5 separate regions of the Homo sapiens genome follow, and regions 2, 3, 4 and 5 are each linked to region 1. Evidence: fine-mapped expression QTL. A gene starts in region 1. Each other region holds a variant in brackets. All regions are shown on one strand. Distances are between the middles of the regions. Region 1 holds the start of ARSG (arylsulfatase G). Region 2 overlaps ARSG (arylsulfatase G). Region 3 overlaps ARSG (arylsulfatase G). Region 4 holds the start of MIR635 (microRNA 635). Region 5 overlaps ARSG (arylsulfatase G).

Region 1 (6,332 bases):
GGTGGGTGGAACAGAGACTGGAAGAGGAAGAATGGAAGGGTGGGTGGGCCATCGAAGCCTCCCATGGAAGCCCCCTTCACATATTCTCCCCCTTTGATGGCTGCCCTGAAGAGTCAGCCCCCAAAAGCAGGCTTGCGGGACCCTCTTCCCAGAGGTCCAGACCAGATTCCTTTCAGTCTACTTACCCAAGTTGAAGTTCTCACAGGCTGGTAAATGCAGTGAGCTTATTTGCAAGCCAGGGTCATATCTGCCTAGCAACCCAACACGAAGACTTGAAGGACTATAAACGTGGACAGAGAACAGGCAGGCCAACTTTACACAAAGGAATCTGTTCTCATGCAAATGACCCTATGCAAGAGGGCTAAAAGAGGGAGCCTTGGGGACAGCTCTGAAGAGCCAACTTTTTCCCCAAGAAGATGTTGGGGGTCTTCTTAAGGGCATCATGATGGTCTTGCCCACTGTAAAGGAAAGCCGAGAGGGGGCTCTGCCTGCCACTTGGGATCAGGCAGACACAACAGGAGAGGCTAAGAGGGGAGCTGAGCCCTTCACTTGATTTCCTGATTTTTCTGGTCCTGTACTCCAGACTCCAAAGGTTCTTTTGTTCTTATTTAGAACTAAACAGAGTTAGTTTTGTTTGGGGGCAAGGGGGCGTTGATTAGCATGGCAATGCAGTGCTTTCTCTGGAGAAGTTAAAAAAGCAGGGGTTTTCACGCTTGGTCTCACTAGGATTGAGGGAACAAGGTGAAGCCAGCCTCTAACTAGGGTGGGCAAAAGTCATGTTGCGTGACTTTTTTGTGACTAGCAAGGCTGTGCGTAGGTTGGGTTTCCAGCTACCTCTCCATTATTCAAACACAGATGGCAAATGTCATCTTTGGATGAGCTCTAGTGGTAAAAAGTGCTAGTGTGTATCTATAAACATGGTGTAACCTTAGGTCAATCCCTCCAGTGCTCAGTGCCTCCACTTTCCTCATCTGTAAAATGGGAATAATGAGTGTCAACTACAGAAGGTTACTGATGCGGTTAACATTGCATTACATGTATGGCACTTAATGCAGTGTTGAGGACAAAGCAAACATTTAAAAAAGATTAATATTAATAAAATATAAGAATAGTAACACATTAGTAACAAAAATCTATTATTATTATTATTATTATTATTAGAATCATGCTCCCCAAAAGCCAGGTTTCACTTGCTCAAACATTCAGATGTGATTTTTCCAATCATTCATTCACTCCTGAGGATTTAGGTATAATTTGAGTCATTTTTTAAATCAAGAGACTGAAGTACAGAGATTTTATGTGACTTGCTTCGAGTCACTCAGGTATAAATGGCTGGCTGCACCTTTAGGTTCCTAAGACATACAGAATATGCTGTCATATTGCACATGATATTTCCATATAGAGTACAGTAACAGGTCCTAAGTATTAAAGTGTAAGATCCTAAATATCAAAGATTATCTTACAGGCAGCCCTGCATTAGCATGAAGTGTTCAAATCAGTTTCTAAATATCATTATATATGGATCCTTTGAAGAACAACTCAAAAAAGGGCTCTCTCTCACAGGGAGTGTGTTGGAGTCAGCAATTAATTGGCCTTGGTAAAGCATAAATCGTAACAGCAGCAAGAGCTAATGGGTACTGAGGCCTTACCAAATGCCAGTCACTGCGATCCGCACTTTACAAGTACCATAAATTAAACCCTCCAATTCTGGGAATACCACCTCCATCCCCATTTTACAGATCTGGAGAAATTAACGCTCTACGAGGTTAAATTACGCCTACAAGGTTGCAAAGCTGCTCAGCGGCCCCTTGGCTGTACACTACTGGCCATACAAGGCACCCTGTACCAACGAATCTTCTCCCCACTTACACAACCAGAACTTGTCAACGGCAAAGGATGGCATTTAACTCAGGAGAGCCTATCCCAAAATGGTGAGAGAACTCAGCGAGCAAGGAAGGATTTTTATTAAAATTCAGATCGCCGACTCCTCCCGGTGGCGACCCTCCGTGCATGCACTCCCAAACTAGGCTCTCTTGAGTTTCTGACATCAGAACCACATTCTCCGAACCCCAATGAAGGCAGCAGCCGGCGCCAAAGTCTGCATACGAATGCAAATAACATGGCCTTTGCTTCCGAGCAGTTTCCAAATTTGCCCTCGGGATGTGAGGTAGAGACCAAGAAGCTAAGTTTGCGCCCCCGCAGGCTCTGAAATGTCTAGGATCTGACACATGCTTTGTCCCCATGAGGAGCTCCTGAGATTTCGCGTGCATCATCCGCTTAGTTCACGGTGACCTTGGGGTCGGGGACTACGGGATGAGGGGCACGGACTGTCTAAACCTCCAGGTCCCTTACAGAGGGCTCCCCGCGGGTATGGGAGCCATGCACCTGTGCCGACGCCGCCACTGCCTGGAGGGTGCGCGCGCGCCCCGGGCCGGGGATGCTGACTCAGCCCGGCTGCTCACATTCCTTTCGCGCAACGCGGATGCTGTTGCTGCCGCTGCTGCCGGTGCAGCAAAGTGGGGGAAGCAAGGCACCCGCAGCGGCCCGGCCGCTCGCTCCCTGGGGCCCACTGCGACACTCCCTCCCCACTGCCGGAAGGGGAACTGTGGGGGTGCGCGAGTTGACGAAACTGGGGGAAGTGGGCGCTGCAGGAGGAACTCAGGCGCCGCGCGCGCAGCTCACACCCAAACTGGAAGGAACCTGTTCTGCCCGGGGCGGGCGCGAAGCCGCCGCAGCCGCGAGCGCCGCGCGGGATCAGCCCCGGCGCGCGCGTGTTCCCCCTCGCCGCTAAATCCCTAAATCCTCAGGGCGCGGGCGGGACTGGGCGGTGGGCGCGCCGGGAAGGCGCCCGGGGGTGGGGACGGGGACCCGCGCGCTCGCGCCTGGCCGAGGTGCTCCGAGACAGGATGCAGGCACCCCCAACACCCTGCACGCTCGCGCTCCTACTAGCGTTGCAGCAAAGCTCCGGGGTCTGGGCGGGTCACGCGCGCAGAGGCGCACCCGGGTTGGGAGATCGGGGCGTTGTGCCAAGGACCCCGGCGGCGCTGGCGGGGGCGGCCCGGCCCCGGACCGCGACGCGGTTACCTTTCGTGACCCCCAGCCCAGGCGGCAGGCTGGCGGGCGCGCGACCGGCGCGGCTCAGGTCCACGTGGGACGGCGCGCGCGCGCCAGGCAGGCCCCCTCCTTGGCTGCGCTCAGCGCTCGCAGCACATGGTCGGCGGCGGCGCGCCCCCGAGGCCGGCGGAGACCGGCTGCAGCCGGTATAGGATAAGAGCTAGGCAGCGACGCGGGGCCGGGGCGCGGGCGGCAGCACGCACGGCCCGGGTCGCAGGCGGCCGGGGTGGGGGGCGGGGGGAGGGTGTGGCTCGGGTGCCCGAGTCGCGGGAGTGGGTGGAGGGCCCGGGCGCTCGGGCCTCACCAGCCCGAGCCAACTTGCGCTAGAGTCGGGCCCGCCCCCTAAGGGGTTAATCCTTTTCTCATGTTACCGAGCGGCTTATAAGGAGGGGGAGGCCAAGCCTCCGCCTTATTGGGAGCCTTTGGGGGTTTATTCTCTTCCCTTCTAACTTGGTGAGTTGGTTTATTATTTTACATGTTTAAAAGTTTGATTGTGGGATGTGGGTTGTTTTTTAAAAAATATGTGTTGGGGCCTTTTTTTGTGATGGGAGGCGGAGGAGACCACTGAACATCTTCACATTTTGGAGAGGTTATTCCCAAAAATATTCGCTCTGACAGTTAGGAATGCCCAGGGCCACCGGGATGACGCGCTCGCGCCGGTGTGGGTAGCTGAGAGTTGAATGTCCGTGACCCTGGTACAGTTGGGTCCCGGAAGATACCTAAAGGCACGCCTGGCCTTTGAGTGCCCCCTGCCCCGGGTTGGGGGCTCCGGGACGTCGGAAGAGTCGGGGGCTCCAGGCTCAGCCCCTCCGCGGATTTTCCGCATGAAGTTGCCTGCGCGTCGCAGGAGCGAAATGTCAGAGGTACCTTCCTACCCCAGGCTGGCGCGCGCACGCAGGCCGGGCACTGAGGCAGCGCGAGGGAAAGTGGGGCTCCCTGCCTCCCCCGACCCCCAAACACAGCACTCCCTGCGGCGGCCACCGTTTGTCCCCAGCGGGAAGCCGGGGATTTCCCGGCAGAGCGCGGGTCCTCCACCTGGACTGTCAGAACTGTCAGCGGCTGACGGCCGGTCCCGCGCAACTTCAAGGTTCCCGGGCTGCCAACCGCAGGAAAGCGCTGGTGTCGCCAAGCAGTTCCGTAGCAAGGGAAGATGGTTTTGCAGAGGAAATGGGTTATTTCCTTCTAGGTTGTTGTCGTCTTTTCTTTTTATTCCCCCCACCCTAGCAAGACAGGTCATAGAAGTTTGTTAGGTGGCGTATATAAAATGTCACCAAACATGGGGGGCGTCAGTCTTAGAAAAAGCTCCCCGGAGCCAACTGGGGAAGAGCAATTACAACTTGTCAACCTGGAAGCCGGTTTTGTTTGCACGGTTAGACACTCCGTGCCAGCTCCTTCTCGCAGGAGATGGTTTCTACCCCGGGAATGAGATTTCTCAGTGATCTGATTGTTTTTGCAAATCATGGTAAGATAGGTGTCTTGCTTGTAAAAAAGATGCCAAGTGCTTATGCTGAAATCTCTAAACCATGCATCTCCCCATGTCCCAAGCACCGTTATGTGGCATTTTTGGGGTCAACAATACATCCGGCCAGATGATATAATAGAAACCCCTCTTCTCATAATTAAGGGAAGAGTGTCCAAAATAGGAACTTACAGTGTGTAAATAAACAATGCAGCCAAGTGGAAAAGCTCCTTCCAGTGTAATGAGTACCACTAACCCTGAGTTTTCCTTCTGTGGTTTCCGAAAAAGGACTTTCCTCAGTGGAACTCCTGAGGAGGACACTTAAATTAGGGGCTCAGGTTTCAACACCATAGTCTTGTAAAATGGTGACTCGGTTGTAGCCAGTGATTCAACATCGTGAGGCAGCTATCCAGGTTAGGTTTGGAAATTTTTTTTAAATAGAGAATGCAGATGAACTTTAGCCAAATACAGACTGGTTTTGACAACTTGGGCCAGAAACAACTTGTCAAAGCTGTTCTCCGGGCTACGCCTTTAAGAAGAAGAGAAATCCGCAGTGCTTTTGCTCGAGGTCTGCCTACAACAGTAGCCACCCCATTTCCATCCAGAGCCTGCGTTTTGAAACTTGCTCTTAGCTGACCCTGGAATAACACTCTGATGGTCTACAATAATACAATTTTTTTCATGCCCTCGGGCCAAATCTTCTCTCGACAAATTAAATCACAGTGAAACTCCCAAGGATAGCGGATTTCCAAGCCTTTGGCAAGATACCTACTTATTTATTTGTTTAGAGGCAGGGTCTCACTCCCATCATGGGAGTGCAGTAGCGTCATCTCTGCTCATTGCAGCCTCGACCTCCCGGGCTCAAGCGATCCTCCCACCTCATTTTTTAATTTTTTTGTAGAGACACAGCCTCACTATGTTGCCCGGGTTGGTCTCAAACTCCTGGGCTCAAGTAATCTGCCTGCTTCGGCCTCCCTAATTGCTGGGATTATAGGCATGAGCTACCGCACCCGGCCAATACTCATTTATTTAAGGGGACACTTAACCACATGCTACTAGGAAATCCTCCAAACTGCCCGTGGATTGTGTCATTGTACTTCCTCCAGAAGAACACTAGGGTGAAGGGAAGATGGCTGCCGGGAACCCCCATTCAGAATTGTCGAGTTTTGTAAGTTGGAAAAGGCTTGAGAGACTCCCCTGACAACCCATGCTTTACAGATGATAGAAGTTCTAGAAGTTCAGGATTCTGTGGTTTCCATAACTGTGCAGCCAGTTAATGGTACACAGAAATTAACAAATATGGCCTAAGAGCTTTAAGAAGACCAACTCTTCGGCCTTGCCTTCAAAGGGCTTAGAAGGATTAAAGCAAGTGACGGTCAAAGGCTGTCATAGAAGTATAGACTATTAGGGCAGGAAGAGATCTAAGCTCATCAGAGTCTAGTTCAACTCCCTTTTTTACATTTACCTTGATTTTACATTGACATTGAAAATGGGGAAGTGAAGTGATTTGCCTAAATTCCATCATCCGTAAAGCAGGGGTTGATGGGCAGGATGACTCAGCTCGCCTCACCAGTTAGATCCCTACACAGCTGAAAAATATCCCTACCCGTCAGATAAATTCACATGGCCACAGACCAAAGTGGACAGATAAACTTTTATATTCTGGAACTTACAGAGGCTTCTGCATAAATGAGTTCAAAATTCAGGCCTCAGTTGCTTTGTTTGCAGAGACAGAAGGTTTGGCCTTCTGCTGAAGGAA
Region 2 (6,142 bases), 130 kb before region 1:
CCACCTCCTAGGTTCAAGTGATTCTAGTGCCTCAGCCTCCCAAGTAGCTGGGGTTTCAGGCATGCTACCATGCCCAGCTAAATTTTGTATTTTTAGTAGAGACAGGATTTCACCATGTTGGCCAGGCTGGTCTCAAACTCCTGACCTCAGGTGATCACCCCCCTCAGCCTCCTAAAGTGCTGGGATTACAGGTGTGAGCCACTGCGCCCAGCCTAAACTGACTTTTTTTTTTTTGAGATGGAGTCTTGCTCCATCGCCCAGGCTGGAGTGCAGTGGTGCGATCTCGGCTCACTGCAGCCTCCACCTCCCCGGTTCAAGCGATTCTCTCCTGCCTCAGCCTCCCGAGTAGCTGGGATTACAGGTGAGCGCCACCATGCCCGGCTAATTTTTGTATTTTTTAGTAGCGATGGGGTTTCACCATGTTGGCCAGGCTGGTCTCAAACTCCTGACCTAGTGATCCACCCACCTCAGCCTCCCAAAGTTCTGGGATTACAGGCGTGAGCCACCGCGCCCAGCCTAAACTGACTTTTTAATAGTGATTGAGCAGTCCATGTTTACAAGTAAGATGAGCCTTTTAAAAATATATACATATACATATAAATACATACACACACACACAGAGACATTTTTATAGTCAGTATTTTCTAGAACTGTGTCATACTTGTCTACACCTAAATAAGCTGGGTGACCATTCTGTGGCCATGAGCGAGTTCAGACAGAAAAATTCCACAGTGCCCAGCCTCTCCCTGCTCACTCTGCATGGGCACAGACCTGTTGATAATGCACCTGCCTACCAGCCTCTTCCTGAGAAGAGTAAGGCCATTCTGTTTTGATTTTGGTAGATAATCTTGTGCCGTGGAAATCAGAAGGGCAAAACGAAGCAGTCATGATGAGAAGCACACCTCAGAAATCAGGACATCCCCCCTATCAGGTGGTTTTGGAGAAAACAAGGAAGGCGGAAGAATGGAGTGCAATTGTGTGAGCAGAAAGGGGGGCAGGAATCCCGGGTGCTCCACTGCTTAAACCACAGGACCTGGTTAACTCCTCACCAAGCTTCCCACGACCCTGGTTGCCAATGGGCGCGGGAGACATTGTATACACATCATGCTATTTAAAATACGTTCAAACTATAGTGTAAATGCTAATTAACCATATTGGTATATAACCGGAATTTTATATTAAAAGGGGCCTCCTTTTTAAATATATGCCGTGTAAAAAATGTACTTATAGGAACATCTCTTTGAATTGTATTTCTTGTATATTACATACTTAGAGAGAGACTCTTTTAGCCAGGCAAAGTCTTTTTTGGCTGTGGCTGGAATAAATCATTTATTACTTGGGAGTCCCATTTTGGACACTAATAATAAAATCATGGCAATGCATTTTTGAGGTTTTTATATATTTTTTTGTTTCCTTGTGGTTATAGGGGACAGGAGGAACTCTTTAACTTCTTTTAAATGCAGTCATTTCACCCTTAAAAGGAGAGGAAGGGGATTGGGCCACAGACTTATCCATGGACTCGTCTGCTCTGAGATCTGGAAAACGACCTAACTTTGGTCTAAATCTGTGCTCCTCAAGGCATTGTTTGATAGAAATGTAGGATTTCAGGATCTACTCGAGCCCTACTGAGACGGAATCCGGATTCTCACAAGATCCCAGGTGATTTGTTTGCATATTAAAGATGGAGACCAGTGAGTACACTGGTTTGTGGAAGGAAAAAAAGAGAAAAGAGAGAGAAGCTCTGCCCTAAATACTAATTAGAATGGATTTACACCAAAATGACCAGAGAAACTGGGAACCAGAGAAACAAGGAAACTAAAATGTATTGAATGTCTGCTCTGTGTCAGGTAATTTGCCAGGCATTTTCATGTATGCCTTTATTTAACCCTCAAAATCAACTTGCAGGTTAGGTTAAACAATTGCCCAAGTTCAAAAGCTGGAGCTGGCACCTGTGCCTGACTCCAAAGCCCGTGTGCTTCCCATTAAGGCACACTCCCTGCCCAGAGCCAGCGCAGCTCAGCTGCTCTCGGGTCGGCGTGGAGGAGGGACAGGATACAGAAGGGATATGCAAGGCTAACTCCAAAACTAAACTCCAAGACTAAACTAAAGCGTGTGTTTGTAAAGAGGGTAAAAATGAAATTTGGAAGCAAACTTGCCTAATTTCCAGGTACTCCTCCTCGTGGAATAAAAATTGGTCTGTTATGCGGCTTGACAGCGGCAGGCAATTTGGTAGGGATTACAGCAGGGAGTTACTGAAGGGTCCTGAGTGTAATCTGCGCTGGAGATGTTGTC[G/A]TTGGCAATGTCTTGGAGGACGTCTGCAAGAACCTTTCTGACCTCGGGCAGCACAGCCTGGTACTCCGCACCACCTCTTTCTAGGGGCACAGCTTCTGCGGTATCGTCTTCCAGGTTGAAAATCAGAGGAAACTTATGCTGCAGCTCAGGCCCCGTGCTCCCATCACACGCCCTGGCTCCACCTAGAGAGGGAATGACAACAAATGCCTCGCTAACCCTGACAGTTGCCCTGTGTTGTAAAGACGAGAGCTGCGAGTGATTCTACATTAATTCAAACATACCAGATAACCAAATGTTCCAATGATGGCTCTCTCTGTCAAAGAAATATTACCTTGAGAATCTATTTGCTCCTTCCAGTGATGATCCTGTGGTCCAAAATGTTTTGCTTTTTTCATTTCTGTTTTTGTTTTTTGAGGCAGGGTCTGGCTTCGTTGCCCAGGCTGGAATGCAGTAGCGTGATCCTAGCTCACTGCAGCTTCAGCCTTTTTGGGCTCAAGTGATCCTCCCACTTCAGCCTCCCAAGTAGATGGGGCTACAGGCATGCACCACCACGCCCAACTTTTTTTTTTTTTTTCCAGAGACAGGGTCCCGCTATGTTCCTCAAGCTGGTCTCAAACTCCTGGCCTCAAGCAATCCTCCTGTCCCAGCCTCCCAAAATGCTGGGATTATCAGCAGGAACCACTGCAGCCACACTAAAATGATTTGGAAGTTCTCCTTGAACTCGCCTTCAGGGCCAGTAGAACATTCATTCAAGTATCTTTATTGACACAAAATCAGGATATAATTATTTTTTCAAGTTGGAGTCTCGCTCTGTCACCCAGGCTGGAGTGCAATGGCACAATCTTCAGCTCACTGCAACCTCTGCCTCCCAGGTTCAAGCAATTCTCCTGCCTCAGCCTCCTGAGTAGCTGGGATCACAGGCACCTGCCACCACGCTCGGCTAATTTTTGTATTTTTAGTAGAGATGGCGTTTCACCATATTGGCCAGGCTGGTCTGTTGGCCAGGCTGGTCTCGAACTCCTAACCTCATGATCTGCCCACTTCGGCCTCCCAAAGTGCTGGGATTACAGGCGTGAGCCACCACACCAGCCAGGATATAATTTTTTAAAGTATCTTTAACCTCTGCCCTTTAGGAGTAAATTTGATTTTTTTGAAAATCGATTTCTTGACTACCAATTGGTGAATCAAGTAGAAAGGCAGGTGAGTCATTTCACTTTGGGTTGAAGATGACAGTCTTACGTGGATTCGAATCTGGCTGTGAAAGCCATCCAGAAGAGGAAGGACAAAAATGTTTGGAATGATAGCAGCTTCCTTGGCTCTTTATGATTCCGATGACTTTTTTTTTTTTTTTTTGGCTTTGCTATAGAAAAAGCAGTTAAGGGTCTGATGGAAATAAATATGACATAATTAAATAAACAAAGGGAATTAAAGCAAAAGATAGCCCTCAAAATTACAAGAGTTCCTAAACACTGACTTTGCTTCTGAGCTTAGCAGCAGCCAAACATTAATGAGATAGAAACTTATCAGTTGCTCAGGAGAAGCAGAGCTTTTTCTGGCACTAAAATCTGAGAGAAATTCTTCCAGTGGCTCCTTCTCCTACAGGGGACCCTGTAGGATGGAATGCTCACTGGCATTCTTATGAAAAATAAAACTGAGATTAGGATGGTTCCACTGACGACTTCTTATCACATCCTTTACTATATGATGAGGGCAGATGCCAACATGCAACTCAATACAAGGAAGTCTATAGGGGCAAAGCCATACCACCTAAGGATTCAGCCTTCTGGTCCAATCTGGCCAGAAATAAAATTTGAAATATTTAGGAGAATGGGTAGATCTCAAAGCCTTTAGACAACCCTTTTTTATTACTGGTTTTCCACCTGTGGCTGAGAGTCAAGTTGATCAGTAGAGATTAATAGTTGTTGTCTTTGCCTACAGTTTGGAATAGAATTTGATTATTCTTCATTGCCAGTACAGGGCAGTGACATGAGCTTTGACAAACAGTTCATGCTAGGAGTAGAGACTGTGTCCCAGGACTGAGGGATCTGCCTAAGATCAAGGGAAAAATCTGAAAGACTCGTCCTAACAAAGTGTAAAACTAAGGCTTTATAAGTTCAAGGGAACTGACTACTGATTAGCTGCCAGTGAAAACAAAAATCAACACTCTCAGGTAACAGAAATCAGAATTGCTACAATGCATCACCAACAATGTCCAGCTTACAATTTTTAAGGACGACTAAATAGGAGACTCCCAGTTTCTAGTCTGGCACATAAGGAGGTCGGCAGTCATCACTTCATTCTAACAAGTAAAAAGCTGAACAAACTAAAAAATCAACAACTCAGCCGGGTGTGGTGGCTCACGCCTGTAATCCCAGCAGTTTGGGAGGTTGAGGCAGGCGGATCATGAGGTCAGGAGTTTGAGACCAGTCTGGCCAACATGGTAAAACCCCGTCTCTACTAAAAATATAAAAAATTATCTGGGCATGGTGGTGGGCACCTGTAATCCCGGCTACCTGGGAGGCTGAGGCAGGAGAACCACGTGAACCTGGGAGCCGAGATCGTGCCACTGCACTCCAGCCCAGGCAACAATGTGAGACTCCATCTCAAAAAAAAAAAAAAAAAAAAAAAAAAAAAAAATTCAGCAACTCTTATTAGGTCTTTTGGAGAAGTGAAGTCACAGGGCAAACTACTGCCCCCAAAATTAGAGAGACAGACAAGCAAATAGAAACAATCACAACTTAACAGAGCAGAAACCCACAAGCAGAAACCTCTGCAAGAACCAGTGCCAGGAGTAGGGAAGCCCTGAACTGTAATTGACAAATTGCTGGAGGCTCAGTGTGGACAAGTCTGAGAGATGAAAAACTCCAGTGGGGCCCAGTTATCAAGCGCCACCCCCCACCGCGGCACCCAAAACACAACACACTTTTGTGAGTTTTACCTCCAGGAGCTCAACCAAGTTCTTACAGTAAATACTGGAGAAAAATCTCTTCATCCTTCCAAAAGGGGTAGGAGAAAAGTAATTTTTAAATATACCAAAACATTCTAGTTTTCTTAACAAGGCCTGCCCTCAGGAGAAACTAATTTACCAGAGCTTAAATTACTTAGGTTTTTCTCACAGCCTAACTGACCTAAGGGTAGGGGGATACCCAGCTCTAGCCACTCTAGCTGTTCCACCTAAGGGGAGGGAAGGGATAGACTAAGAAGCACTTGTGAAGTTCACAGTCCAAGGGCCCAGGCTCACCAAAACTACTAAGACTTAATAATAACCTACCCAAATGAGAAGGAACCAGAAAACCAACTCTGGTAATTAATATGACAAAACAAGGCTCTTTGACACTCCCCAAAAAATCACACTAGCTCACCAGCAATGGATCCAAACCAAGAAAAAAATCCCTGATTAACCTGAAAAAGAATTCAGGAGGTTAGTTATTAAGCTAATTAGGGAGGCACCAGAGAAAGGTGAAGCCCAATGCAAGGAAATCCAAAAATCAATACAAGAAGTGAAGGGAGAAATATTCAAGGAAATAGATAGAATAAAGAAAAAACAGTTAAAACATCAGGAAACATTGGACATACTTCTAGTAATGCAAAATGCTCTGGAAAGTCTCAGCAATAGAATTGAACAAGTAGAAGAAAGAAATTCAGAGCTCGAAGACAAGGTCTTTGACTTAACCCAATCCAACAAAGACAAAGGAAAAAGAATAAGAAAATATGAACAAAGCCTCCAAGAAGGCTGGGATTATGTTAAACGACCAAATCTAAGAATAATTGGTGTTCCTGAGGAAGAAGAGAAATCTAAAAGTTTGGAAAACATATTTGGGGGAATAATCAAGGAAAACTTCCCTGGCCT
Region 3 (6,332 bases), 55 kb before region 1:
GCCTGCCACAGCCCTGCACTCAACCCATTCTCCTAGTGTAGCCTACAGACTTTTTATCATCTGGGTAATACCGTCTTCCCCATTAGTGATGCACTCCTCGAGTTAGACATTAGATCTTTGCCAACCCAATATGTGGTGTATGTAGAATAACTAGTAGATGCTTGTCGTATTTTTTTTTCTTTTTGAGACGGAGTCTCAGTCTGTCTCCCAGGCTGGAGTGCAGTGGCACGATCTCAGCTCATGCAACCTCCACCTCCTGGGTTCAAGCGATTCTCGTGCTTCAGCCTCCCGAGTAGCTGGGACTACAGGCACCTGTCACCACGCCCAGCTAATCTTTGTATTTTTGTAGAGATGGGATTTCAGCATGTTGGCCAGGCTGGTTGCAAACTGCTGACCTCAAGTAATCCACCTGCCTCGGCCTCCCAAAGTGCTGGGACTATAGGCATGAGCCACCATGCCCAGCCTGTTTGTTGTATTTTTAAAAAATTGATATCTTCATGCTAACTTGGTTTGCACAAATGGATTTAGCTACCCCCTAGGTACACAACATAGCCCTGAAATGCTACTGCATCTGGTATCAGGATGACTCTCCACCAAGGAGAGCAAACTTCTGCCGGAAAGAGCCAAATAGTAAACATTTTAGGTTTTGTGGGTCAGATGATCTCTGTTAAGGCCACTCAACTCTGCCATTGTAGCGCAAACACACCCACAGACAATATGTACACAAATGACTGTACATATTGGCTGTTTTCTTTTTTTCTTTTTTTTTCTTGAGATGGAGTTTCAGTTTTGTCGCCTAGGCTGGAGTGGTGCAATCTCAACTCACTGCAACCTCCACCTCCTGGGTTCAAGCGGTTCCCCTGCCTCAGCCTCCCAAATAGCTGGGGTTACAGGCATGCACCACTGTGCTGAGCTAATTTTTTATTTTTTTAGTAGAGACAGGGGTTCACCATGTTGGCTGATCTCAAACTCCTGACCTCAGGTGATCCACCCACCTCAGCCTCCCAAAGTGCTGGGATTACAGGCGTGAGCCACCATGCTTGGCCTTGCTGTTTTCTAATAAAATTTTATTTACAAAAACAGCTAGCATACTGGATTTGGACCACAGGTCTATGCCAACCACTGATCTAAATCATAGGCATCCTCATACCCCAGTGTTAGAAAGACCTCGTTGTGTTTGCAGGAGCCCTGACCTGAGGAACAGCCCAGGGCAGCAAGAGGAGCGTGGGTGCTTAGAAGGAATGTGTAAGTGTGCTTGGCATAACCCAGGGCATGTGAAGTTTTTTTCCGACTTCCTCCTTCATTCTATCTCTTCTCCAACCCAAGCTTTTAATCAAAAGATTAACCAGGCATGGTGGCGGGCACCTGTAGTCCCAGCTACTTGGGAGGCTGAGGCATGAGAATCACTTGAACCTGGGAGGCGGAGGTTGCAGTGAGCCGAGATCATGCCACTGCACTCTAGCCTGGGAGACAGAGTGAGACGGGGAACCAGGACAGTGCACCGCAGAGAGGATGTAAGAGGCAGGAGGGAAAAGGAGTGAACTTGGACATAAGCATGAAGAAACCTCAGAGTGTCCATGCCAGAAGGCTTTTTGGAATTGTCTGGTCCAAAGAGCAAATAGGTAGGAGGTACTCTTTCTTCCCACTTCCCACACCCACAGGAGACACCAGATCCATCATGGTACCACTTCCTGCTGCATAGGAGCTGGTCTCAGTATCCCCTCACCACAGGAATATGCCCTCAAGGTGCCAACACCTGATCTGGTCCAACCCCTCAACTGTCAAGTGAGAAAACTGAAGACCAAGGAGGAAACAAGTTCTGGAGTAATTTTTAGTGAGTGCAAAAGCCAGGTCTTCACTTCTCCCATCTGTCATTTTTTTTAAAGCATGTGTGGATGATGCCACGAATGCCCACCTGGGAAAAGGGGCTCAAGGGAGGAGAGGGAGAGGAATGAGCATCAAAGGGGAGGTAAGAGTTGAAGAAGACGTCAGCCAATGGGGTTACTGACCAGTGGGTCCCTGCTGAAGGCTGGCTCCAGGCCAACCCTCTGAAAGTCATTCTCCAAATGCAAAAATCTTCCAATGCAAACCTTCCGCCAGGTCTAGGACAGAACAATTCAGCCGTTTTCCATAGAGATAGGGAGAGATACTGGGGCAGGGGAGGGGAGAAGTCTGCAAAATAGTCAGAGAATCACATTTGCTTATAAAATGGCAGAAGAGGAAGGGGCCAGGGACAGGAGAAGCCACCAAAGCTGAGATCATGGTAAATGCCTTTAAGAGAAAGTCCACGGCTTCCTATAGGAAATGGAAAAGGTCAGTGGCACGAACTGCAACTTTGAAAAACCATCAGTAATTCAGTGAATTGGACGTTTGGAGAATCCGCCCTTCAGCAAAGTGATTTTCAGAGAACCAGCTTTGGTAGCTTGATCTTGGCCTACTTCCCCAAGGCCAGAGGGTGAGGAAGCAAAGGCTGCAGGAAGAGGCCAAGAGGCAGCATCTCCTGTTTGGGTCTATGGCCAGGTTTCCTGCTTCGGTGAACCCATCAGTCAATTTTTACTTCTTCCCAGATTAGCCATGTCTGGACCTCATGGGGCAGAATGTTCCCTGAGGTGTAAAGAACCGAGAGATGGCAAAAAAGCTGATGGGCCTGTGATGGGGCAGTTGGAAGGGCAAACAGGCACCAAGGAAGGACAGTCAAGGAAGATGCCAGCAAGTGGGATGTAAGGTCCCGGAGAGCCCTGGCACCCCAAATGCACTCAAATGACCTCGTGAACAAAGATGTCCTAACTTAGGGTTGCCCCCAGAGACAGGATGGCTTAGCTGTTCATGGAGTCTTACACAGAGACCTTTATTTTCTGTTTCCCAGGTAACAAATCCCCAAAAGAATTCTTACCACGGAAGTTGGGGTGATAAGAGCCGTGGTGTCCAAGATGCCATTTGCCTGTAGAAAAACATAAGAGAGATTTTCAGAGGAATCCCCATAGGGGTACCACAGCCCCCTGAGGAGCTGATCACACACTCAGCTCTCCATTAGCTTCGCCTCGCACTGTGGACAAGCCAAAAGAAGCTGCAATGTGGTGTACAAGCCAGGCTTTGCTCTCTGGGGCCGAGACGGTGTCCACAGGGACACATAAAGGATGACCCCAGACTCACACGGGAAACCACAGTGAAAGGGGAAGACAGCCCATCACCAGGAGCCCGGAGAAGCCTGAGCCTCTGCCCCTCAAAGAGGGCTCCACAGACACAGCAACCCCACATGGGCTCCTTCACTTTGCCCTCCCGCGCTGGGGCCCTGCAAAGGCACCAGGAGGCCCAGGGTGCAGGTGCACC[G/A]CCCCACATCGTCTCAGAAATGCCCGCTTCCTGCCTGGTTTCATCATCTTCCTCTCTGGCCAACATCAGCAGCCCGCAGTTCAAGCACCGAGACACCTACGGGGCAGCAAATGAGGAAACTCAGACACCCTGCTGCTCCTCGGTCTGCAAATGCGCTCAGTCTGGGGGAATAATCGGGCAATGTGTGGCAAGAGCTCTGACAGTGTCAGAACTCTCTGATCTGCTCTTCCGCTCTGAGGAGTAGACCCCAGGGACGCCACCCCCATGGTGAGGGGGCAAAGAAAAGAATGTGGTACAAAGATTGAGACGCTGGCAGCATTAAACCGCTCAAACGAGAGATTAACGGGCAACCACAGGAGTATGTCTAAGTACATTATTTGATGTGGCCTCAATAAGGAACTATCGATCTATTTTTTCAAGACAACTGCATGTAGCAAAAATTAAGAATCGGTGAAACTGGATGAAGGGCCTCTAGGAGTCCATTATTCCCTCCCTGCAACTGCTCTATGGGATTGAAAAAAAAGATTAATAAAAAATTGAGAGAAATGGGCTCTCAATTTCTCTCAATTGAGTGGCTCATGTCTGTAATCCCAGCACTTTGGGAGGCCGAGGCAGGCGGATCACATGAGGCCAGGAGTTTGAGACTAGCCTGGGCAACGTGGCAAAACCTTATCTCTACTAAAAATACAAAAATTAGCTGGGTGTGGTGGTGCACGCCTGTAATCCCAACTACTCGGGAGGCTGAGGCAGGAGAATCACTTGAACCCGGGAGGTGGGGGTTGCAGTGGGCAGAGATTGAGCCACTGTACTCCAGCCTGGGTGACAGAGTAAGACTTTGTCCCAAATAAATAAAAAAGATTGAGAGAAATGTATTAAGCATTATGTGAAATATTTGGATTAAACATTACATGAGAACATGACATTATATTAAAATTATGAAAAGTATTGTTTAATCATAAAAATTATACTATGTAAAATTATATGACATGGAAACATAGAATAATGTGAAAGGGGGAAAAGTGGAGCCCAGTGGTATTCGCACAGCTAGGCAACACATAAACATGGACCAAGATTAGAAGCAAAGTGTGAGTGTTGTAAAAGGATCTGATATTCCTTTGGTGGGTCTTTAATTTTTCCTAAAAGTGTACTTTAGTTCATAATTGCAACAGCTGGATATGCTTAAATATCCTGCCCAGGATGTGCAAAAGGTGTCGTGAGTGGTGAGGGGGTGAGGAATGCAGCTAAACAGTCAAGCTGCAAACAGTTGCTTACTGGGAGTTTAAAGGCATGAAGACGGAGGGGCCAGTGAGGTCAAATTCAGCTCCAGAAGAAGCCAGCCCCACTTCTGCAGCATAGGGGCTGAGTCTGGGACAGCCCTGGGACCTAACTCTTCCTGGCTATGAGTTTTATTATTTATTTACTTATTTGTAGATACAGAGTCTCACTATGGTGCCCAGGCTGGTCTCGATCTCCTGGGCTCGAGGGATCCTCCCACCTCGGCCTTCCATAGTGCTGGGATTACAGGCGTGAGCCACTTCGTTCAGCTGGCTGTGAGGTTTACATGGACGCATGTAACTGGCCTAGTAAGGAGAGTCAGCCCACAGTGGCAGTTTCACAAATGGTGTCTTGGTGTTGATGTTGTTAACATAATGACTCCTTGGGGTATGGGAAGAAAGGGATTGGAAAAAGAGAAGTGTGTGACCTTAATTGGTCTCTCCTACAGCCTGGGACTTACCCCTTCTGGGACAAAGAATGCCGCACTCCAGGTTGAGCTTCCGTAAAAGGATATCAGGCTCTTTAACCCAGAGTGGGATAAAAGGGCCAATAGCAGAGGCACCAGCCCTGGGTCTGGGTAGAACAACCTCCCACAGGTTCACACGGTTCAGACACCCAAGGCATGCCCACAGGGCCACCCGCTTGTGGTTGCACCCTCCCTCCCTTGCAATTTCCTGTATAGTGGAGGAGGCAGGGATCCCAAGGGGTCCAGCTCTTTGAGAGTTAGACTAACAAACACAGGGAGCTGAGGATACTTCTGGGAATACTGGGCTGTCTTGGCTCCTGGAGGGGAGAAGGGCAGTGAGGCAGAGCCTCAGGGCAAGGCTGGGAACAGATATACCTGCCTAGACCTGGCCTCCACCCCTCCAGGTTAGGCAGCTTCTCTTCACCGGCCTGAAACTCAGTTCTCTTGCCAATACAATAATCATCTTCATGCCAATAAACAGCCCAGTGCCTAGCACATAATAAATGCTGAGTAAGAGATGCCTAAAAAAATGTTTTAAAGGAGAGGGAGTCATTGGACAATGTGGCAGACGTTGCTGGTCTCCCAGCAATGCCCATGTCCCCATGTATCCTGCTAATAGAACTGTGGTTTTGTTCAAAGGGAGGAAGATTACCATGCCCAAGTTCAAGTCAGTCACTACAATGCTGTCCCCAGTTTCTCAATCTGGGAGTGCAGCAGTGAGGCGTGGCCAAAAGACCCAGCTCTGGCCAATAAGATATAAGTGCAATTCTTGGGGTGCAGGCAGAGCTGAGCCATCTCCCTTCTCTTCTTCCTTCCTTGAGCCAAATCGTGGTTCAGGGGCCTAAAGTCGCTGGATGGCAGTCATGAGGCAGTGAGCATGAGGACAAACACCAAACACCAACATGCTAAGGATGGCAGAGCAGAAAGATCGAGTGAGAGCACCTGGCTCCCGGCAGCATCTTTGAGCAGCTGAATTAATGAAAGCAACCAGTTACCACAAAACTTGCTATAATGGGAGGAAAATAGCTCCATGTATGTTTTAATTCACTGTTAGGTCTTTTCAGTTCCTTATAGCTGAGAGCATCCCTAACTCACACAGCAAGACATGAACAGGAAAGCAGACAGGGAGTATGTTGGGAATTTGCAAACACAAGGCGGCTGCCACTGCAGTAAATGCAACAGGCAGACGGGGCCCAGAGTTACCTATTATCCCAGTGACGTAACCCGCCTGCTGCAGCACCTCTGCCAAGGTGGTCTCGTT
Region 4 (4,000 bases), 130 kb before region 1:
AAACAAAAGAAAAGCACTCATGCCTTCTGTGAACAGGCACAGACTGAGCTCTCCTGCTGTGGCCAGGGCACCAGAGCTGCCACCGCCCCCCACCGATGGCTGCTCTCCTTGCTAGCATGTCCTCACCTGTGTGTACTGGGAAGAGCAGAGGACTAATCTTTGTCTAGCCAATGTAAGAGAAAGAGGCCATTTTGACGGTGTGTGACTGCCCCTGGCAGTTGCAGGTCACTTCAGCTCATCCTGGCCCAGCAGCGTGTGGGTAGGTCTACAATTTAAACCCACAGAGTTGGCGGGCGGATCACCTGAGGTCAGGAGTTCGAGACCAGCCTGGCCAACATGGTGAAACCCAGTCTCTACTAAAAATACAAAAATTAGCCAGGCGCTGTGGTGGGTGCCTGTAGTCGCAGCTACTCGGGAGGCTGAGGCAGGAGAATCGCTTGAACCCAGGAGGCGGAGGTTGCAGTGAGCCGAGATTGCGCCACTGCACTCCAGCCTGGGCAATAGAGCAAGACCCTGCCTCAAAAATAAATAAATAACCCACAGAGCTGAGCACAGGCTTCTTCATGCTTTTCCTTTGGAAGGTGTCCTAGATATATGATGATTTCTTTTTTCTTTCACCTCCTCTTGATTGTCACAAGTAGCTTGCTTGGCTCAGGAACAACAGAAGAGAATAAAGAAAATGACCTCAGACCTTCCTTACCTCAGTCTTATGCAGCGACCGTAGCCAGACCAAGTGCATCTTCAGCCTCCACGGTGCCAGGTGGGTGGACACGGGGCCAACAGGGGAGCATCTCCAACAGTGACCTCCCTCCCCTTCTCCCTGCACGCTCCCTCCCCTTCCCCCTTCACTGTTACCTGGGGGTGGAGTGCCCTCCCTCCCCTTCCCCCTTCACTGTTACCTGGGGGTGGAGTGCTCTCCTTGAATTTTTTATTTTCTCACAGGTGAGGCCATGGTAATAGCCTTTAAACCTGGGACCCTCAACCTGGCAAGGCATCACACGATACGGTCTTTTTCCTAACAAGTGGTGTTAACCCTTTGCCTCTTCAAAAATTCCAATGAGGCCAGGCACATTGGCTCACACCTGTAATCCCAGCACTTTGGGAGGCTGAGGCCAGCGGATCACTGGAGGCCAGGGGTTTGAGACCAGCCTAGCCAACATGGTGAAACCCCATCTCTACTTAAAAAATAGAAAAATTAGCTGGGCATGTTGGCACACACTTGCAATCCCAGCTACTCCGGAGGCTGAGGCAGGAGAATTGCTTGAACCAGAGAGGCGGAGATTGCAGTGAGCTGAGATCATACCACTGCACTCCAGCCTGGGTGAAAGAGTGAGACTCTGTTTCAAAAAATAAAAACTAAACTAAAATTTCCAAAGAGCCTGTAGTCCTAGCCACTCAGGAAGTTAAATTGAGGCAGAAGGATCCCTTAGGCTCAGGAGTTCGAGACCAGCCTGGGCAACATACTGAGACCCTACCTCAACAAAGAAAAATTCAAAGAGGTAGGATGCCTCAGGCATCTGAAGTGGAAAGGCAGGTCAGGCTTAAAGATGGCAGATGGTGAGGATTATGACTTGTCCTAGGCACAGTACCTCCAGGGGGAAGACAGACAGCCCCTTTGCTTCCTTTGCCCTTTATTTGAGCCCCCGCTCCCCACCCGCCAGGTCATGGCATAAAAGCAGATCCCCAGTGCTTGTTTCATGTCTCTTTCTTGGTTTCCAGGTTATTCTGAGGACGGCGGGGCGCTGCGAGGAGAAGTTATTCCTGAACATGAGTTTGCGACGGGACCAGTGTGTCTTGATGATGAGAATGAGTTTCCTCCTGTGAGCATTAGGAACCCGTAACTGGGCGGCTCAGTCTGTGTGCTTAGAAGGAAACCT[T/C]CGCCTCATACGAGAGGCAGAGTCCCTTTCCCTGTTTTCTAATCTATAACAACTAATTCTCTGCTCTAGTATTTGGAAAGCCATAGGATATTTGTTGTACTGTGTGCTTCGAATCCTACAGAGTAGGCTTTAGGTGTCGAGCTAAACCCTGATGGCATTAGAGTCACCGAATACTAATCCAGGGAGTCTTGGTGGCCTCCCTCCAGCCAGAGGCCTGCGATCCCTTACTTTGCTTCTGTAGCACTGACTTTGCTGCCTGGAAGGTAGGAACACGTGACTTGTCTAAAACTTATTTTCCTGAGGCTCCCATGGATGCGTTTGCAGAATGCTGCCTTCCTTGTGCTGGAGGGGATGGTTTCAGAGGGCTGGGCTGTGTGTTCAGGACTCTGAGCTGAGTTGCTGCACTCTGTGAACCAGCTTGACCCTCACTTACCTGCAGCTCTGGCCGGCAGACCCGCACCTCCCCAGCAGTTGCAGACACTCATTAAGAAACAAGTGGCCGGGTGCGGTGGCTCACACCTGTAATCCCAGCACTTTGGGAGGCCGAGGCTGGAGGATTGCTTGAGCCCAGGAGTTAGAGACCAGCCTGGGCAACACAGCAAAACCCCATCTCCACCAAAAAAAAAAAAAAAAAAGAAAAGAAAAAATTAGCCGGGTGTGGTGTCACGTGCCTGTAGTCCCAGCTATTCGGGACGCTGAGATGGGAGGATCACCTGAGCCTGGGAGGTCGAGGCTGCAGTGAGCTCTGATTGTGCCACTGCACTCCAGCCTAGGTGAAAGAGTGAGACTCTATCTCAAAAAGAAAAGAAAAGCAATTGTGTGCTCTGTGGAGGGCAGCAGGTGCAGGGCAGGAGCTTGCCCGAGCACCTTTAGCTGGGTTTCCCAGCAACCTGCTCAGCCTGTTCCCACAGCTAGGGCCCTCGGGGCTGGCTGAGTGCTGGGCGTGGCTTCTTCCATCACCTGGAACTGAAGACAAGATTCCCTCCTGAGAGCCTGCTGGGGCTTCCTTAACTGCTGATTCTTCAGGCTCCCATCTGGAGTAACATATAGACCGCTCTTGTGAGCTTCAGTCAAAACATCCCAGATAGTCAACCTGAAATCATTTCGAGATGGAAGTACTGATTTGTTTTGTTTTGTTTTTGAGACGGAGTCTTGCTCTGTCACCCAGGCTGGAGTGCAGTGGTGTGATCTCGGCTCGCTGCAGCCTCTGCCTCCTGGGTTCAAGCAATTCTCCTGCCTCAGCCTCCCGAGTAGCTGCAATTACAGATGTGCGCCACCATGCCCAACTAATATTTTGTATTTTTAGTAGAGACGGGGTTTCACCATGTTGGTCACGCTGGTCTCAAACTCCTGACCTCAAGTGATCCACTCGTCTCGGCCTCCCAAAGTGCTAGGATTACAGGCGTGAACCGCCGCACCCGGCCGGAAGTAGTGTTTGGGCCAAGACTTGGAGCATCAGCTCCTAGAGCCAGAGAGGAGCTGCCACTTGGGCACTGAAACAATGTCCATTAGGCTTTGTTATGGAAACTTCTCCTGATCATTGTTTTGTGTCCATTGAGCTTCCAATTGTAAAAGGATGGAGTGCAGGTCTGGCTTCTTTCTCCCGCAGATCCGTGGAACCCTCTAGTGAGCACATTTGGCTTAGAAAACAAAGCTGCGGTGGGGCCCTGCATGCAGGGCTGGGGCTGTTGTTTTGTGATTTCCCACATCGGCTCTGCGGGTCGGTCGCAGCGTGAGCTTTTACATTTCTGGCTTTCAATAGGCAGGTTGTCAGAGACGTGGCTGGCAAGTGAAGTTTATATCTCAGTGGCGGAGAGCAGTTGTTCTTAAAAATACTAATTATAAACTTCAAAACCTCTGTTGGCATGCTGCCTAACTATAAACCAGTTGTTTTACCTTTGGGTTCTCATGGCCCCAACTGGCCTTAAAGGGCGTTCTTCTGCACCCTCAAGAGGCGGTGGTTATTTACCTGAAGTCGAGGCTTCCAGGATCCAGAGCACTCTAGGTCAGACACCGTGGGGACAAATGTGACCATTCTACTCTGTCAGGGTTTACCACATCCAGACACTCACTAGGTTCCGTTTCACTAATTTTGGTAAAAGTCTGTAACTACTATAAAATAT
Region 5 (6,332 bases), 72 kb before region 1:
CAGCAATGATTTGCAGTGCCTGATGCCAACTCTCCCAGGGATGGTCATGTACAGTTGTGCAGGTTGTGGCCTGCATCAGGACATCCTGCTGAGTGAATGGGTCCTTATTTCCAGCTTACAATCTACTGGCTGGTTACCCTGCACAGGGCAGTGCCTGGCCAGTGGGGGTGGCTTTTTTTAATTTTCAGGTAGATTCCATATTGCAGTGGTGCCTAGATCTGGCTCAAATTTCAAGTATTTTGCAAACCAGTTGTTAAACATGGCCATTGCTAAAAATTCAATTATAAAAGTCCACAATTAAATAAATTTTATTTTATTTTATTTTTTTGCCAGGCGTAGTGGCTCACACCTGTAATCCCAGCACTTTGGGAGGCCGAGGCAGGCGGATCATTTGAGGTCAGGAGTTTGAGACCAGCTGGGCCAAGATGGCAAAACCCTGCCTCTACTAACAAATACAAAAATTAGCCAGGCGTGGTGGCAGGTGCCTGTAATCCCAGCTACTCGGGAGGCTGAGGCAGGGAGAACCACTTGAAACCAGGAGGCAGAGGTTGCAGTGAGCCAAGATTGTGCACTGCACTCCAGCCTGGGCGACAGAGCGAGACTCTGTCTCAAAAAAAAAATAAATTAAATAAATCAATAATATTTTTTGAAAGTAGTACATTCTCACCATTTATCACTTCCCAACTACTACATTCTGCTATGATGTAGGCTCATGGGGTTATTTACATCTATTGTATCTGTGTGGTGGAAATAACACACAATGGCTTGCTACTGCCCATCATTTTTCAATGCCATATTCGGTGACATCTCCATAGCTGGAAATCAGCCATGGTGAGATTGAGTATTTACACCTCAGGAATTGGCAAATGCTACAGACTGCAGCTGTTTTCTTAGAAATCAGCTCACCATGTGTATGGGCGAGGGGTGGTCCTGCTGTCCACCCTTCATCATCCATCATCATCTTCCAAACTCTCACCCATTATCAAAGTCACATTAGCACCCTGAGCCAGAGGCTTACAGAGACAGGCAGTTATGAGAGATGGCAGAGCACAGGCTGATGAAGAGCACAGGCTTGAGAATCCTGCATCCAAACCTCCAGATTTGTTATTTCATGACTGTGTAGCCCTGGACAATTAACTTAACCTCTGTCATCTATAAAATGGGGACAATCAGACCTCCCCAACAAAGTTGTGTAACTTCCCACACTAAGCATCTAATAAATGGTAGCTTATTTTGTTGTTGTTTTTTGTTTCTGAGACGGAGTCTCGCTCTGTCTCCCAAGCTGGAGTGCAGTGGCGCGATCTTGGCTCACTACAACCTCCGCCTCCCAGGTTCAAGCAATTCTCCTGCCTCAGCCTCCCGAGTAGCTGGGACTACAGGCATGCACGCCACCACACCTGGCTAATTTTTGTATTTTTAGTAGAGATGAGGTTTTGCCATGTTGGCCAGGCTGGTCTCGAACTCCTGACTTCAAGTGATCTGCCTGCCTTAGCCTCCCAAAGTGCTGGGGTTACAGGCATGAGCCACTGCGCCCGACCGCTTCCTTGTTAAGAATGTTGAATACATGCCAGCAGTAGTAAGCATAAATGATGCCCAAGGATGTACCTCTCTCCCTGCATCCTGATGCCAGGCTAGATTCCAAAACATGGCATCAGGCAGAGCCCACACAGACTAGTCCCTTGGGGGCATCTGTCCCGCAAGCCACCTCTTCATTATGCACCTGTGCTGAATGGAAAATAGAGTGGGGGGACACCTGATGCTTTAAAAAAATACTGATTATATCACAGTGTGACTCCACTTTTGTTTTCTAAAACACATTCATTTCAACTATACCTTAATAAAACCAGGGAAACATATGTTTATGCACCAGCATAGAATGAGGCTAGAAGAACATACTCGGAGGTATTAAAACAGGTTATCCTCACACTTGTAATCCCAGAACTTTTGGAAGGCCGAGGTGGGTGGATCACCTGAGGTCAGGAGTTCAAGACCAGCCTGGCCAACATGGTGAAACCCTGTCTCTACTAAAAATACAAAAATTAGCCAGGCATGGTGACGCGTGCCTGTAATCCCAGCCAGCAAGAGAATGGCTTGAACCCAGGAGGCGGAGGTTGCAGTGAGCCCAGATTGTGCCACTGCACTCCAGCCTAGGCAACAGAGCAAGACTCTGTCTCAAATAAACAAAAAACAAAACAACAACAACAACAACAAAAAACAGGTTATCTCTGGGATGGAATTCAGGGTGATTTTTTTTTGTTTGCTTGTCTCAGTTTTCCGAGATTACTAAAGGGAACACATGCTATTTTTGTGGGAAAACAAGTGGAATGGTGAGTAGAGAAGGAAAAAAACAAGTAAGATGACAGAGGGGACATTCCAGGAGAGCAAGAGGATGGGGCAGGGTGTGGAGACAGGGTGTGGAGAAGATTATGGTGCAGGGACCGTTAAGGCTGGGGAAAATCATCTGATCCGAAATGGAAGAGGGCAGGTGAGAGGCACCCATCTCTCAAGAAGTGTCCCCAGATGGTGCCTGGGTGGAGGGAGGCAGGCCTGGAGGTGAAGGCAGGGCTTCCCTCATGCAGGGGGAAATGAACACCTGCAGCTCTCAGCCCACTGGCCTCTCTGGTGGTGGCTCCCTGGGGATGGATGGGCAAGGGGTCTCTCTGAAATGGACTGCTGCAATAACCACTTGTCCCCCGCCCCACCATTTTGCCATCTTCCACTAGACCCTGGCATCACAGACAACCTTCTCTAACCCAGACTTGATCTGGCAGATCTCTATTTAGAAACGTACTAGGGCTCGGCCAGGCACGATGGCTCACGCCTGTAATCCCAGCACTTTGGGAGGCCGAGGCAGTTGGATCACCTAAGGTCAGGAGTTCGAGACCAGCCTGACCAACATGAAGAAACCCCATCTCTACTAAAAATACAAAATTAGCTGGGCATGGTGGTGCATGCCTGTAATCCCAGCTACTCGGGAGGCTGAGGCAGGAGAATTGCTTGAACCTGGGAGGCAGAGGTTGCGGTGAGCCGAGATCGCGCCATTGCACTCCAGCCTGGGCAACGAGAGCAAAACTCCATCTCAAAAAAGAAAGAAGAAA[G/AG]AAACAAAAGAAACGTACTAGGGCTCATTGCAGCCTGCAGGGTCAATCCAAACTCCTCACCCAGTCTTTGCAGCTTTCCCTATCTCCGTCCCTTCCAGCCTGACCTTCCTTCCCTGTCAAAGACTCTTTCTATATGCCAGTGTCCCAAGCACCTCACCTACTTCCTGTGCCTCATCTATGTTATTCCTCTCTCAGCAGTATTCTCCCTGTTATCTTGCCCCAAAACACTTAATCAGTTCTTAAGATCCAATTCCAAAGCCACCAATAGTCCTCCTCCTTTGCTCCCAGGTCATGGTTGGCTGCCTCCTCTCTGCCCCCATCCCTGCCATAGCCCTTTTCCCTGCTTCTTGCGGTATTAATAAGATACAAACAACCTGCATTAAAGCCATGTTTTTACATATCTGTTTCCCCACTAGCTTGGGAATCACTCAGAGACTGGACATGTCTAATTCACGTTTGAATCCCTGGCACAGCACCAGCACATCACTGGAGCTGGATAAGTAACTCACTCATTCATTCATTCATTCATTAAATATTTATTAAGCTCTAACTGGGCACTGGGGACAGAGGAATGAGCACAATAGATATGATTTCCACCCTCTTGGAGTTTAACATCTAATTGAGACCAGGAAAGAGAAAAAGGCAACTAAAATATAAATAAGATGATTATTTAAAAAGTTAGTATAGGCAGCGCATCCCAAATCTGAAAATCCAAAATACTCCAAACTCCGAAACTGTTTGAGCACTGACCTGACACTCAAAGGAAATACTCATGGGAGGATTAGGGATGCTCAGCCGGTTAAGTATAATGCAAATAGTCCAAACTCTTTAAAAATCCAAAATCTGAAATACTTCTGGTCCCAAGCATTCCAGATACGGAATACTCAGCCCGTAGGAGAGATGGAAGAGAAATACAAGTTGCTGTGGAAGGTGTAACAGGGGAACCAAATGGGGTTTGGGGTGTGGAGGGGAGGGAAAGATCCCTGAGACAGTGGGACCTGGAGGACGGTGTGTGGTGACCACACAAGGCAGAGAACATAGCCCTGGGGGAGACGTTCGATATGATTGCCTCGCTAGTCATTAGTTTATTCTCTCACTCACTAGAGATCCGTCTCTGCATTCAAACAGGAGAAAGGAGAAAGAGGGGTTGGGGGTGAGTATGGTCTTTGGATCTGAACCTGGATCCCTGACATAGGTTGGTGTCGGGTGGGAGCCGGGTGAGAGGCAAGATGAGGAGGGGGCAGCACCACAGCAGGGGCACTTAGGCAAGCATGGGGGCCAGCAATGAAGACGGATAGTGAGTCAAGGAAAACGGAGAATTCTGCAGATCCCAGGCATGAGCTCATGAAGGCTGGAACATGTCTTTCATCTCTGCATCCTGAGGACCTAGTTCCAAAAGATGCGTGTCCTGTGTCTTAGCCTGCTAGGGACGCTATAACAAAATACCACTCCCTGGGGTGGCTTAGTATACAACCATCGACTTCTCCCAATTCTGTTTTTTGGGTTTTGTTGTTGTTGTTGTTTTTGTTTGTTTGTTGTTGTCATGGTTCTTTCTGAGAGTTTCGCTCTTGTTGCCCAGGCTGGAGTGTAATGGCATGATCTCGGCTCACTGCAACCTCCGTCTCCTGGGTTCAAGCATTCTCCTACCTCAGCCTCTCAAGTAGCTGGGATTACAGGCATGTGCCACCATGACCGGCTAATTTTTGTATCTTTAATAGAGATGGGGTTTCACCATGTTGGCCAGGCTGATCTCGAACTTCTTCTGACTGCATGTGATCTACCCACCTCGGCCTCCCAAAGTGCTGGGATTACAGGCGTGAGCCACCGTGCCTGGCCTTTTTTTTCTTTTTCCAGGTTCTAGACTGCAGAAGGACCTATTTGTTTGTTTGTTTGTTTGTTTTGTTGTGTTTTTTGTAGAGATGGGGGTGGTCTCACTATGTTGTGCAGACTGGTCTTGAACGCCTGAGCTCAAGCAATCTCCTACCCTTGGCCTCCCAAAGTGTTGGGATTACAGGCATGAGCCACCACGCCTGACTTTACGTCTCCCAGTTCTAGAGGCTGGGAAGTCCACTGTCTGGTAAGGGGCTGATTCTTGGCTTATTAACAGACAAGTGTCTTCCCACTGTATCCTCACATGGCCAGGAGAGAGCACACCAGAGTCTCTTTCTCTTCTTTTAATACAAACACTAATCCCAACATGGGGGCTTCACTCTCATGATCTTATCTAAACCTAATTTCCTCCTAATGGCCCCACCTCCTAATACCACCCCATTAAGGGTTAGGATTTCAATGTGTAGTACATGACACCATGGAAGATTGATTTGTTTGAAAGGTCTGATTTCAGGCCGGGCACGGTAGCTCACACCCGTAATCCCAGCACTTTGGGAGGCCGAGGCAGGTAGATCACCTGAGGTTGGGAGTTCGAGACAAGCTTGGCCAACATGGTGAAACGCCGTCTCTACTAAAAATACAAAAATTAGCTGGGTGTGGTGGCGGGCGCCTGTAATCCCAGCTACTCGGGAGGCTGAGGCAGGAGAATCGCTTGAACCCAGGAGGCAGAGGTTGCAGTGCGCCAAGATTGCAACACTGCACTCCAGTCTGGGTGACAAGAGCGAGACTCAGTCTCAAAAAAAGAAAACTAAGAAATGTCTGATTTCAAACATGCTGGGCCGCTGCTCATCCTGATGCCCGATACACTCCTGCTTATCAAGCCCTGTATTGCCCGCGTAGGTGCAATGCACGGTCCCAGACCTCAAAAGGAACAGAGGCCCAGCTAGCTCTGTGACCCAGGAGTCATGCCTTCTACCGGCTCCTTTTCCCATTCAGAGATTTGCCTGCTGCTTAAAAAACTCCAATCAAGCATTAGCATTCAGCATTGCTACCAGATGAAGGGTCTAAAGTCAAGTAAACTGAATGACCAGCAGTGATAACCAAGTACTACGTCGAGGGTCTTGGGTGAAACACTAAAGCCAACTAAAGACCCAAGTAAAAACTCCCTAAGTCCCAGGGTGGGCCCCCTTGTCAAGGAAGAGCGGGAAGCCACACTCTAGGGACAGCTGGTGGTTTTGAAAAACAGGTCCAAGGTGGGGGAGGGGCTTGAGGCAGGGGCCAGAGTCATGGAGGAGGAAGGGCATGGACCTGAGGGCCTTTTCTGCTGATGCTCAGAAAATCATTTGGCATGTGGAAATCCCAAAGAAATCAGCATTTCTGGGGATTTCCTTCTGTGATGTTAAA

The links. PIP is the estimated chance that this variant, and not a neighbour inherited with it, causes the effect. A credible set is the group of variants that fine-mapping cannot tell apart.
Region 2: its variant is the best candidate, but not a certain one, in a credible set for the expression of ARSG in whole blood (TOPMed, PIP 0.52).
Region 3: its variant is the best candidate, but not a certain one, in a credible set for the expression of ARSG in whole blood (TOPMed, PIP 0.59).
Region 4: its variant is the best candidate, but not a certain one, in a credible set for the expression of ARSG in whole blood (INTERVAL, PIP 0.54).
Region 5: its variant is the best candidate, but not a certain one, in a credible set for the expression of ARSG in monocytes (TOPMed, PIP 0.83).

The regions. Positions count from the first base shown.
Region 1 is chr17:68,288,321-68,294,652 of GRCh38, reverse strand. It overlaps ARSG (arylsulfatase G), which reads right to left and starts at 3,158. Exons shown (of 12, transcript NM_001267727.2): 1 at 3,085-3,158. SLC16A6 (solute carrier family 16 member 6) reads left to right here and starts at 3,526. Exons shown (of 6, transcript NM_004694.5): 1 at 3,526-3,567. RefSeq lists an enhancer at 2,071-2,300 and silencers at 3,160-3,334, 2,701-3,390.
Region 2 is chr17:68,416,521-68,422,662 of GRCh38, reverse strand. ARSG (arylsulfatase G) reads right to left here. Exons shown (of 12, transcript NM_001267727.2): 12 at 1,849-2,474. The coding sequence ends at 2,200. It overlaps WIPI1 (WD repeat domain, phosphoinositide interacting 1), which reads left to right. Exons shown (of 13, transcript NM_017983.7): 13 at 843-1,382. The coding sequence ends at 890. It also overlaps a transcript of PRKAR1A not described here. Among named protein-coding and RNA genes, the nearest start is that of MIR635, 5.0 kb to the left of the region's middle. The variant G/A (reference allele first, on the strand shown) is at 2,293.
Region 3 is chr17:68,343,734-68,350,065 of GRCh38, reverse strand. It overlaps ARSG (arylsulfatase G), which reads right to left. Exons shown (of 12, transcript NM_001267727.2): 3 at 6,275-6,332; 4 at 2,894-2,941. Among named protein-coding and RNA genes, the nearest start is that of ARSG, 55 kb to the right of the region's middle. RefSeq lists enhancers at 3,183-3,322, 3,343-3,452, 4,724-5,224, 5,225-5,725. The variant G/A (reference allele first, on the strand shown) is at 3,331.
Region 4 is chr17:68,423,895-68,427,894 of GRCh38, reverse strand. WIPI1 (WD repeat domain, phosphoinositide interacting 1) reads left to right here. Exons shown (of 13, transcript NM_017983.7): 11 at 642-760; 12 at 1,720-1,820. MIR635 (microRNA 635) reads left to right here and starts at 3,347; the gene lies at 3,347-3,444. It also overlaps a transcript of ARSG not described here and a transcript of PRKAR1A not described here. The variant T/C (reference allele first, on the strand shown) is at 1,878.
Region 5 is chr17:68,360,234-68,366,565 of GRCh38, reverse strand. The region is part of intron 6 of ARSG (arylsulfatase G); the gene reads right to left. Among named protein-coding and RNA genes, the nearest start is that of MIR635, 61 kb to the left of the region's middle. The variant G/AG (reference allele first, on the strand shown) is at 3,099.